4 separate regions of the Homo sapiens genome follow, and regions 1, 2 and 3 are each linked to region 4. The links come from fine-mapping of genetic effects on gene expression. A gene starts in region 4. Each other region holds a variant in brackets. All regions are shown on one strand. Distances are from middle to middle.

The links.
Region 1: its variant is fine-mapped to the expression of CASTOR2 in whole blood (INTERVAL, PIP 0.96).
Region 2: its variant is fine-mapped to the expression of CASTOR2 in lung (TOPMed, PIP above 0.99). The same link has a PIP of 0.9 or more in caudate, cerebellar hemisphere, cerebellum, esophagus mucosa, esophagus muscle and fibroblasts.
Region 3: its variant is fine-mapped to the expression of CASTOR2 in whole blood (INTERVAL, PIP above 0.99).

The regions. Positions count from the first base shown.
Region 1 is chr7:74,683,986-74,686,667 of GRCh38, forward strand. The region is part of intron 1 of GTF2I (general transcription factor IIi); the gene reads left to right. Among named protein-coding and RNA genes, the nearest start is that of GTF2I, 28 kb to the left of the region's middle. The variant C/G (reference allele first, on the strand shown) is at 1,428.
Region 2 is chr7:75,028,596-75,031,277 of GRCh38, forward strand. CASTOR2 (cytosolic arginine sensor for mTORC1 subunit 2) reads left to right here. Exons shown (of 9, transcript NM_001145064.3): 9 at 1-2,682. It also overlaps a transcript of RCC1L not described here. Among named protein-coding and RNA genes, the nearest start is that of RCC1L, 44 kb to the right of the region's middle. The variant T/C (reference allele first, on the strand shown) is at 1,044.
Region 3 is chr7:75,550,734-75,553,415 of GRCh38, forward strand. All of the region lies in intron 22 of HIP1 (huntingtin interacting protein 1), which reads right to left. Among named protein-coding and RNA genes, the nearest start is that of SPDYE5, 60 kb to the left of the region's middle. The variant T/C (reference allele first, on the strand shown) is at 1,073.
Region 4 is chr7:74,963,142-74,965,823 of GRCh38, forward strand. It overlaps CASTOR2 (cytosolic arginine sensor for mTORC1 subunit 2), which reads left to right and starts at 1,564. Exons shown (of 9, transcript NM_001145064.3): 1 at 1,564-1,957. The coding sequence starts at 1,845. RefSeq lists a silencer at 1,302-1,411.

The sequences.
Region 1 (2,682 bases), 280 kb before region 4:
GTTTTGATGTGTCATGACAGATAGGAGAGGTCATATCCTTGTGATTTGTGGTTCATTGCTGGTGACATCAGAAAGTAAAGTCAACCAGGAAAAGACTCCATGGGCCTGGCTCAGGTGGCTTCTGGAGCACCACCTCCATCAAGGAGCTTTTCCTGGGGTCCATGTGTAGTCCATGTTGCCTGCTCTCCCACCCAGGGTTGCTGTGCTTATTATACAAGATGGCCAATAAAGCATGACATATATTCAATAAATGTTCATTTCTTTTTCCAACCCTTCTTATTTTAAGTTGAGGGTATTCATAAAAGGGATTGAGCATTTCCATTTATGGACGAGGCAACTGAGTACAGCCCCCAGGGGCACGCAGCGAGATGGCTGTCTGCTGAACCCATACACCAGCTCTCTAGGCGTTTGGTCCTGTGGGGACCGGTGCATCAGATGCTTCCTAAGCTGGCGTCACCTGCCTGGCCCGATGCCTCCTCTGGTGTTCATTGTTTAATTAATGCCACCTCCTGATGGCAGTTTCTTTCTGGGAAGAGGAGAAAAGAGAGCCGTCCCCAAGTGAAGGGTGCAGGGAAGCCTCCACGAATAGTTTCAACTAAGGACTGTCCCAGGAAGGAAACTCTTGGGATGGGCAAAGAACAGCGAACTTCCGGTGTGACCCGGATGCACCCATTTCCAGAGAGCAGGAAGCACAGAGAAGGCCCGTGGGTCGCCCTTGGGGTGCTTTCCATCCTGCAGGGCTCGCTGCCTGCCCTGAAAGTTCTGATAAAGACATAGGACCTTCATCACCAGGGGCGCCCCGTGGGCTGTTGCTGTAGCGTCTGTCCCCCATTTCTTACACACATTGAGTGTGATTGTTACCAGTGGAGGGTGTCCAATGGAAGAAGCACCAAAAGCCGAGATTTATTGAAAGTGGAAGGTACAGTCCACAAAGAGGGGGCGGGCCGAGCCTGGGGGCTGAAGAGCCCCTTTACAGAATTTTCTGGGGTTTAACTACTTTCTGGGGTTTAACTTTCTGGGGTTTAATTTTCTAGAGGTTTCCCATTGGTTACCTGGTGTACATCCTTTGTAAATACAGTAGTGGCCTGCAAGCAGTCTGATTGGTTGTGAAAAGCAACCAATTAGAGGCTGACTTGAAGTTACAAAGGTTACACCCTATGCAAGCATCTGTGGAAAGCAACCAATCAGAGACTAAAGTGAAGTTACAAAGTTACACTTGTATGCAAATGACGACTTGCCCTGCCGGGCTCCAGTAATCCCAGTACTTTGGGAGGCCAAGATGGGTGGATTACTTGAGGTCACGAGTTCCAGACCAGCCTGACCAATATGGTGAAACCCCCTCTCTACTAAAAATACAAAAAATTAGCCAGGTGTGGTGGCAGTTACCTGTAATCTCAGCTACTCGGGAGGCTGAGGCAGGAGAATCG[C/G]TTGAACCCGGGAGGCAGAGGTTGCAGTGAGCTGAGATAGCGCCATTGCACTTCAGCCTGGGCAACAAAGCAAGACCCTGTCTCAAAACAAAAACAAAAGGCCGGGCGTGGTGGGAGGCCAAGGTAGGTGGATAACCTGAAGTCAGAAGTTCCAGACCAGCCTGGCCAACATGGCGAAACTCCATCTCTACTAAAAATACAAAAATTAGTTGGGCGTGGTGGCGGGCACCTGTAGTCCCAGGTACTCGCGAGGCTGAAGCAGGAGAATCGTTTGAACCCGGAAGGCCGAGGTTGCAGGGAACCCAGAACGTGCCACTGCACTCCAGCCTCGGCGATAGAGCTAGACTCCGTCTTAAAAAAAGAAAAAAAAAAGTCCGGGGGCGATGGCTCACGCCGGTAATCCGGCCGAGGCGGGCGGATCATGAGGTCAGGAGATCGATACCATCCTGGCTAACATGGTGAAAACCCGTCTCTACTAAAAAACACAAAAATTAGCTGCGCGTGGTGGCGGGCGCCTGTAGTCCCAGCTACTCTGGAGGCTGAGGTGGGAGAATGGCGTGAACCCGGGAGGCGGAGCTTGCAGTGAGCCGAGATCGTGCCACTGCACTAAAGAAAAAGGAAAGGAAAAAAGACTTGGTCGCAGTCAGTCTGGGATTCGTTGCAGGAAGCAACCAATCAGAGGCTGAAGTGAAGTTACAATGTTACACTCCTGTGCAAACGTCTGATTGGTTGCAGAAAGCAACCAATCAGAGATACTTTGAATTTTCCATCTGGGACACAGAAAAAGTGGGGGTGGTGGTTTGCAAACTGAGTAGCCTCCCATCCTTTTGTTACTTAGGTGTGAAAAGTTGGGGTTTTCCTTTTGATTTAGTTCTAGGAAGTCAGCATGAATTGGCCTTAGGTTCCCTGCCTCCAGACCCTATTCTCCGGCCTCATGATGACTTGATGGCAGATTTATGGCGATTAAAGATGAGAAAAAGTGGTAACAGCAGTAGGCAGAAAATTGCCCTAGTTTCATGTTCTGACTGTGATAGTGGCAATATGACCTTGACAAATCACTGCATTTGTAAAATGAGAACACATCTCTGTTTTCTTTCGCTGGGGAATTAAAGGAAAAGTGAGATTATGAAGAAATACTATGAATTTTCAGAAATAATGAAAGTGTACGCTAAGTGAATGTCTAATTATAGAAACATATATGCCTTTGTTGTCCATTTCGCCTAAGCCACATTTTAATGGAAATTTACTTAGACTT
Region 2 (2,682 bases), 65 kb after region 4:
GAGCAGTGACCACCCCTCCCTGCCACTGATAAGTTCTGCCTCGTCGTGGGGCTCCCCTGGTTCCCAAGACACCCCTTCCTCCCTCAGCCCGTCGTCCTAACCCAGCAAAGATCTGGGCATTGCTGACTCTGCACCTCCTTCCTCCATGGGCATCTCCAGGACCGCCCTCCTTCAAGGGGCACTGCCCACACCACTGTCCTCAGCCCGAGGCATGCATCTGAGCTGGAGAGGCTTGCAGGCCTGACCCTGGTAGCTTCCCCTCCCCAAGATTCAGAGGCGGGGACCCAAAGCCTCACTCCAAACCACTGGCATTCTCACCTCCTCTCACCTCCAGGCACCAGGCTGCTGGTGGGAAAGGAAGGAGCTGGGGGATCAGAGGCTTCCAGTGTGGCCTCCGGAAGCAGCAGCGTAGCCAGGGTGACATTTGTTCAGCAGGAGGAGGCTTGGTCTGGAGGGGCTTGCCCCTCTGAGGTGACAGAGGATGCCCTGGAGGTCAGGAGAGAAGACTGGGAAGACAGGAAGGGCCAGGCCCCTGTTAAAGCCCAGGGCACTATTTGGTGATCTTCAAAGGTGAACACAGGCCACCTCCCACTGGCCCCCTCCTCCTGGCCACATTTTCCAGGGATACCCTGGGGAGTCCTAAGGCCACCCTGGGCCCCTTTCTGAGCCTAGAGATCTGGATGTGGTGACAACCAGGGCTTTTCCCAGCCCCAGCTAAGAGAGGGGGCTTTAGGGCAAGAGCACCTCAGCCCTGCAATGGGGGGATCTTTTTTTTTTTTTTTTTTTGAGACAGGCTGGAGTGCAGTGGTGCGATCTCGGTTCGCTGCAACCTCTGCTTCCCAGGTTCAAGTGATTCTCCTGCCTCAGCCTCCCAAGTAGCTGGGATTACAGGCACCCACCACCACGCTCGGCTAATTTTTGTATTTTTAGTAGAGACAGGGTTTCACTATGTTGGCCAGGCTGTTCTTGAACTCCTGACCTCAGGTGATCCGCCCACCTTGGCCTCCCAAAGTGCTGGGATTACAGGCATGAGATACCCCGCC[T/C]GGCCAATGGGATTTTTGACGCCACTTCCTGAGTGAAGCGCTTTGCATGGGGATGGGAAGAAGCACCCCCAACCTTCTAGTCCGCTCCGAGCAGGGCCTGGAGCATTGGAGACATTGGTTAGTGTAATAGGCAGAGCCTGAGTGAGGCCGGGGGGCTTCTCCAACAGAGAAAAGACATTGGCTTTGGGTACCATGCTGAGGGAGGGGGTTAGGCCTGGTGGGGGCCCATTCAAAGGAGGCCGGGCTCGGTGGCTTAGGCCTGTCATCCCAGCACTTTGGGAGACCAAGGTGGGAGGATAGCTTGAGGCCAAGATAGCAAGACCAACCTGGTCAACATAGCAAGACCCTGCCTCTACAAGAAAATAACGAAAGAGGCCCCAGGGAAGGAAGCCAGCCAGGAGCAGCCTGGAGCAGAGGCAGGAGCCTGAGGCCTGAGCCATGGCATCCAGGGACAGCCTGGTGGCCGAGAGAGCTTGTGGCTGTCACTATAAGGGAAGAGGAGCTATGGAAATTGGAAGTGCAGGGTGGCCTGTGTGCTAGGAGTGGGGGTGCAGGCCTAGGTGTGTTTATGCACACGTTTGTGCATGTACCTGTGAGCGTGGATGTGTTCCTATGCATTAGAGTGTGTGCGTGCACGTGTGCAGAGCCCACACCTGAGATATGGGACTGGCTCTTGGAGTATTTTGAGTTCTCAGTAGCAGTCTTGTTGTCAGGCCTTGAGTGCAGAAATGATTAGGTGAGTGAGGGCAGGACTCGAATGCAGACCCTGGCTCCAGGGGAGAGGGTGGGGCGTCTCTGGTAGGACGGCCTCACCCCACTTGTCAGAACTACTCTGGAGGGGGGCAAAGGTGTCAGGAACAGTTTGAGCAGTTCTGGCTCAGGGTCATTCATGAGGTTGCTGTTGTCTGAAATCTTAGCTAAGGATTGGAGGATGCACTTCTAAGTGAGGCCTGGCTGTAGGCAGGAGGCCTCAGTCCTTCCCCAGGTGGGCCAACCCACAGGGCTGCTTGAGTGTCTTCACAATATGGCGCTCGGCTTCCCCCCAGAGCAAGAGATTCAAGGGCCCAGGGTAAAAGCCAACGTGTTATTTTTATCCCTAGCCTCAGAATTCACACGCCGTTGCCTCCACCATGCTCTGGTTTGATACAGCCCAGCTCTGATTGGAAGGGGCTGGGGCTGCCCGTGCTGACTCTTCAAAGGCATCCCATCCTGCAGATGGTGTTCACAGGGAGAGTTTGTGGGGGCCGGCACTCCCTCATCTACTGGGGCTCATTCTGGAAGAAGGTCCAGAAGAATTGGAGACCCCTGCCCCTCACCCAAACTTTGGAGGTGGCAGGGTGAACAGCAGGCCAAGTTCAGGTCCCAAGACAGGCCAAGGCCAGTGCGGTTTCCCTTCCACTGCCTCAGTTTACCTGTATTCAGAAGACAGTCTAGGAAGAGTTGAGCAGAGTTCCCTCTAAAAGAGTAGGGAGCTGATAACAGTCCCAAGCCCTCCTCTTTCTCTATGCCAAAATCATTTCCGTTATCCTGAGATGGGGGTGAGTGGATGGATGGTGTACTGAGGGGCCTCTGCCCTGCCCAGAGCCCCCACCATCGTAGTGGGGGCAGGGGACTTCCTGCCCACAACCCCCTCCAACCC
Region 3 (2,682 bases), 590 kb after region 4:
TTAATTCCACATAGATGCATCCCTATTAAGTTTGAATGTTTGAGTCTTTATATAAAAGGAATCCTACTGTATATATTTTTCCATGACTTGATTTTTCACTCAACATTCTATGTGTGAGATTCATCCTAATACCTAGTAATTCTGATTCTATGTATATACTCTAGAGAAACTGACATGTGTGCATATATGATCATAGGGGCAAATTAATAACAACCCAAACTGGAAATAACCCAAGTGTCCATCACCAAGAGAACAGACGGATGAATTAAGCGATATTCACACAATAGATAATGAGAGAGCAGTGAAAATGAATTTATCTTCTTGGATTAATCTCACAGAATGTGGAGTGAAAAAGCCAGTTGTAGAAGAATATATACAGTAGGACTCCATTTACCTGTAGTCTATATCATGTGAAACTAACTCTATTATTTAGGGAGGCAAAGATGTAGATGATAATTTTTTTTTTTTTTTTTTTTTTTTTTGAGGCAGTGTCTCACTCTGTCGCCCAGGCTGGAGTGCAGTGGTGCAATCTCGGCTCACTGCAGCCTCCGCCTCCCAGGCTCAAAGGATTATCCTGCCTCAGCCTCTCAAGTAGCTGGGATTACAGGTATGTGCTGGGATTACAAAATTAGCCACCACAACTGGCTAATTTTGTATTTTTAATAGAGATGGAGTTTCACTATATTGGCCAGGCTGGTCTCAAACTCCTGGCCTCAAGTGATCCACCCACCTCAGCCTCCCAAAGTGCTGGGATTACAGGCGTGAGCCACCACACCTGGCCCTGATCTTTTTATTTTTTCTTTTTAGAGACAGGGTCTTACTCTCTCACCCAGGCTGGAGTACAGTGGTTCACTGCAGGTGAACCACTCTGCAGAGTACACTCTGCAATTCACTGCAGAGTACACGGTTCACTGCAGTCTTGAGCTCCCAGGCTTAGGTGATCCTCCTGCCTCAGCCTCCTGAGTAGCTGGGACCAAAAGTGCTCACCATCACACCCGGCCAATTTTTAAATTTGTTGTAGAGACAGGGCGCCACTAAGTTGCCCAGGCTGGTCTCAAATTCCTGGCCTCAA[T/C]TGATCCACCCACCTTGGCTGGATGTGGTCTTTTTATTATCTTCTTCTGGAACTCCAATTAGACAGTCTATCCTCATGGCTTTTATTTTTTATTTATTTTTTGAGTGGAGTTTCGCTCCTGTTGCCCAGGTTGGAGTGCAAAGGCACGATCTTAGCTCACTGCAACCTCAGCCTCCCAGGTTCAAGTGATTCTCCTGCCTCAGCCTCCTAAGTAGCTGGGATTACAGGCGCCTACCATCACGCCTGGCTAATTTTTTGTACTTTTAGTAGAGATGGGGTTTTGCCATGTTGGCCAGGCTGGTCTAGAACTCCTGACCTCAGGTGATCCACCTGCCTCGGCCTCCCAAAATGTTGGGATTACAGGCGTGAGCCACCGTGCCTGGCCCTATCCTTGTATCTTAACCAATATATTCCAATTCATAACACTGGGGAAAAAATGAAAAAAAACTGTACTGCATAGAAATGGTTTTCTTATTTTTCTTTTCCATAGAGTCCATGTCTTCTCTGTCCCTATATATACTTAACCCAATTTCTGGTATACAGGACATATTTATTTATAGCAGAGGCAGGGTCTCACTCTGTTGCCTAGGCTGGAGTGCAGTGGCACAATCATAGCTCACTGTGGCCTCCAAATCCTGGGCTCAAGCGATCCTCCTGCCTCAGCCTCCCGAGTAGCTGGGACTACAGGTGCGTGACATCACACCTGTCTAATTAAAAAAAAAATTTTATTTTGTAGAGACAGGGTCTCACTATGTTGCCTAGGCTGATATTGAACTCCTGGCCTCAAGTGATCCTCCTGCCTCGGCCTCCCAAAGTGCAGGGATTACAGGTGTGAGCCACCATGCTCGGCACTACATCTTTAGTAAATGAATGAACACAGTGTTATTTCCATTTTGGGTATTACCTGCCCACCTAGATAAAAATCCTCAGAGACAGGGGAGCTGCCTATACTTCTTTGATATTGCCTAGTGTAATGATGACAACATAGTAGATTCTCAGCTAACAGCCAGTGAATTAAATATAGCTGGAAAGTCCTTCAGGAGGTTTTTCCTTTTTAAATTTTTTTTTTTTTAATTTTTAAAGAGACAGGGTCTCATTTTGTTGCCTAGGCCTGTCTCAAACTTCTGGGATCAAGTGATCCTTTTTTTTTTCGAGATAGATCTCACTCTTATGCCCAGGCTGGAGTGCAATGGCATGATCTCGGTGCACTGCAACCTCCACCTCCTGGGTTCAAGCAATTCTCTTGACTCCACCTCCCAGTACCTGGGATTATAGGCATGCACCACTATGCTGGGTTGATTTTTGTATTTTTAGTAGAGACAGGGTTTCACCCTGTTGGCCAGGCTGGTCTCTAGCTCTTGACCTCAAGTGATCTGCCCACCTCAGCCTCCCAAAGTGCTGGGATTACAGGCGTGAGCCATCCCGTCTAGCCTCAAGTGATCCTCCTGACTCGGCCTCCCAAAGTGCTGGGATTACACGCATAAATCACTGCACCCGGCCAGATTTTCCAATTTTAACAATCTCTTTCTAGAATCAAGTTCTAAGTGCAGAAAGAACTAGCTCAGAACATCACCGATTCCCTGGCCATTCACCAGCACGCACACCCAGAA
Region 4 (2,682 bases):
GGAGGCCGAAGTGGGTGGATCACCTGAGGTCAGGAGTTCAAGACCAGCCTAGGCAACATTGCGAAAAATACAAATATTAGCCAGCCGTGGTGGCCAGCACCTGTAATCCCAGCTAGCTGGGAGGCCAAGGCACGAGAATCGCTGAACCAAGGGGGAGGAGGTTGCAGTAAGCCAAGATCGCGCCATGGCACTCTAGCCTGGGCGACAGAGCAAGACTCCATCTCGGGGGGGAAAAAAGAAAGTTAAAAAAAAAAAAAAATTAGCCAGGCATAACTGTAGTCCCAACTGCTGGGGAAGCTGGGGTGGGAGGATCTTTTAAGCCCAGGAGTTCGAGGCTGTAGTGAGCTATGATTGCGCCCCTGCACTCCATCCTGGCCAACAGAGCAAGACCCTGTCTCTAAAAAATAAATAAATAAAAGAAAAAGAGTAAAAGAAAATAAAGTGGGAGGGGGATATGCATGCTCTAAGATCTATCTACCACAGATTACAGGCTTTTCACCCTTTTGTGGAAATGACAAAACCTAGTATGTTCCTACCTAACAGAGGAGGGCTGAGGGAAGGTGAGGGAGCACAACTGCAATTTTCCCCTGAAAGAGAGTTCTCAGCCTGCCCTGGCAGATAGATCTCACCCATCGCGTCCCCAGATTACTCTGCCAAAGGTGGAAGCACCAATCACTTTAACCCAGAACATTTCAAAACCAGACAGCCATGAAGGAGGAACCTCTGTGGTCCCGGCGCGTGGGCCCTGGGGTTGGAAGTGCCTCAGACGCACTTTACATTTTCCCCGAATTCACCCTTCGCAGTCCCCATCACCCCCTCTCCAGTGGGATAAATGGCCACCTCATTAGCTCTGCACACATGACCCTCCCGACCTGACTCCTGGTGACTATGCCTGCCTTATCTCTTTTCTCTCCTCCCTCACATTTTCCGCTGCAACAAAGCCAAACACAGCACCGTGGGGGCTTTCACGCTTCTGTGCCCTAGGACACGCTGTTCCTGCAGCCTGGAAGGCCTCTGTCCTCCATCCGCGCGCCCTCACTCTCTTGCTACGAACTCCCATTCATCCTTCAAAACCCAGCCTGAGTGTCCCCTCCCCCGGGTCACCCCCTTTGACCTGTCAATCCCCTCCCTCCGGGTCCCCAGCAAGCTTTTCGGTTTGGCTTCTCTGCACTCTCATGACCGATTGCCCTACATCTTGGCGCTCCCAGACTCGGGCCTTCTCCAGCACCGGAGTCGTCTGGTTTGCTCGCTTTACACTCCAAGCACCTAGTACCGAGCCTGACTGGGTGCCAGAGGGCGCGCCTAGGCTCAGGCTGGCTCCACCCGCCCCGTGCCTCCCCTCGGCCTTCCCCTTAGTCCTGAGGGTGCCCGCGCTCCTGCATTTCCCGTGCACCGGGCTGCCGGTAGCTCCGGCCGCCCAGCCCCCGCGGCAGCAACAGCAGCAACAGCACCGGGGGAGCCCCCCCCCAGGCGGACTACAAGTCCCGGCAGGCCGCGCGCGGGCCGCGCATGCGCAGCGGGGACCGGCGTTTGAGTGGCAAGTTGTTTGTTACAGCGAACACCAGCTGCTCCCCGCGCCGGGCGCCGCGCGCCGCTGCTCCGCCGCTCGGCCCCTCGGCTGCTGCTCCGCCGGCGCTGCCTCCCTCGCCCCGCGGCTCCCCCTTGCAACTTGGCGGGCCTCCTCCCTTTTGTCCGGCCCGGCCCGGCCGCCGCCGCCCCCCGCGCCCGGCGCCGAGCTCCCGGGTCTCCGGGCCGGCTGTCGGTGCCGGCAGGGCGCGGAGGGGGCGGGGGCCGCGGCTCGTCCCCCCGCGGATGAGCCGCCGCGGACGGGGCGCGGGCGGACGATGGAACTCCACATCCTGGAGCACCGGCTGCAAGTTGCCAGCGTCGCCAAGGAGAGTATCCCGCTGTTCACCTACGGCCTGATCAAACTTGCCTTCCTGTCCTCCAAGACCAGGTAAGCGCGCGGGGACGCGGCGCCGGCCGGGGACAGACAAAGGGGGCGCACCCCGGGCCGCTGTCCTCGCCGCCGCGCCTCGGAAAACAACTTCGGGCCCCGGGAGCGCCCCCGCCCCGCCCCCGCCGCCGCTTCGCTCGCGTCTGACAAAGCCGGAGCCGCAGGGTCCTGGCTCCCGGACCCCTCGCAACCTTCCACCCCCCGGTGCGCCACCCCCCACCTCTGTCGTCCCCCCCATCTCCCACCCCCTCCCCCATCGCAGCCCCCTCCCCGAAATCCGGGGGGCTGGGGCGGCTGCAGTGACGGATCCGTGAATGGATGAAGGAACGAACGAATGAATGAATGAAAAACAGGTGTGGGGACGAGGCCGTGGAAAAAACAAACGCCCCCATCCCCCCATCCCTCGGTTGGGCCGGCCCCGTCGCCACGGCGGGGGGAGGGATTCCGCTGAGCGCGGTTACCCAGAGCAGAAAATCATAAAATCATTAGTGGGTGTTTATCTCAAGGTGCCTACGAGGCTTGCTGCGGACGGCCTGGAATTGCGGGGGGGAAACGGGGGGTGGGCGAGGGCCAGGGAGGGGCTGCAGAGGACGTGATTCTTTCTCCTTGGGGTCCTGGAAAGGGGGTGGGGGGGTGTTTTGCCCAACCGTAGAAGGGGAGGAGCAGGCATGTTTATGCATCTGCCTTGAGGCTGGGCTTGGATGCTGCAGGGGGAAAAATAGTTG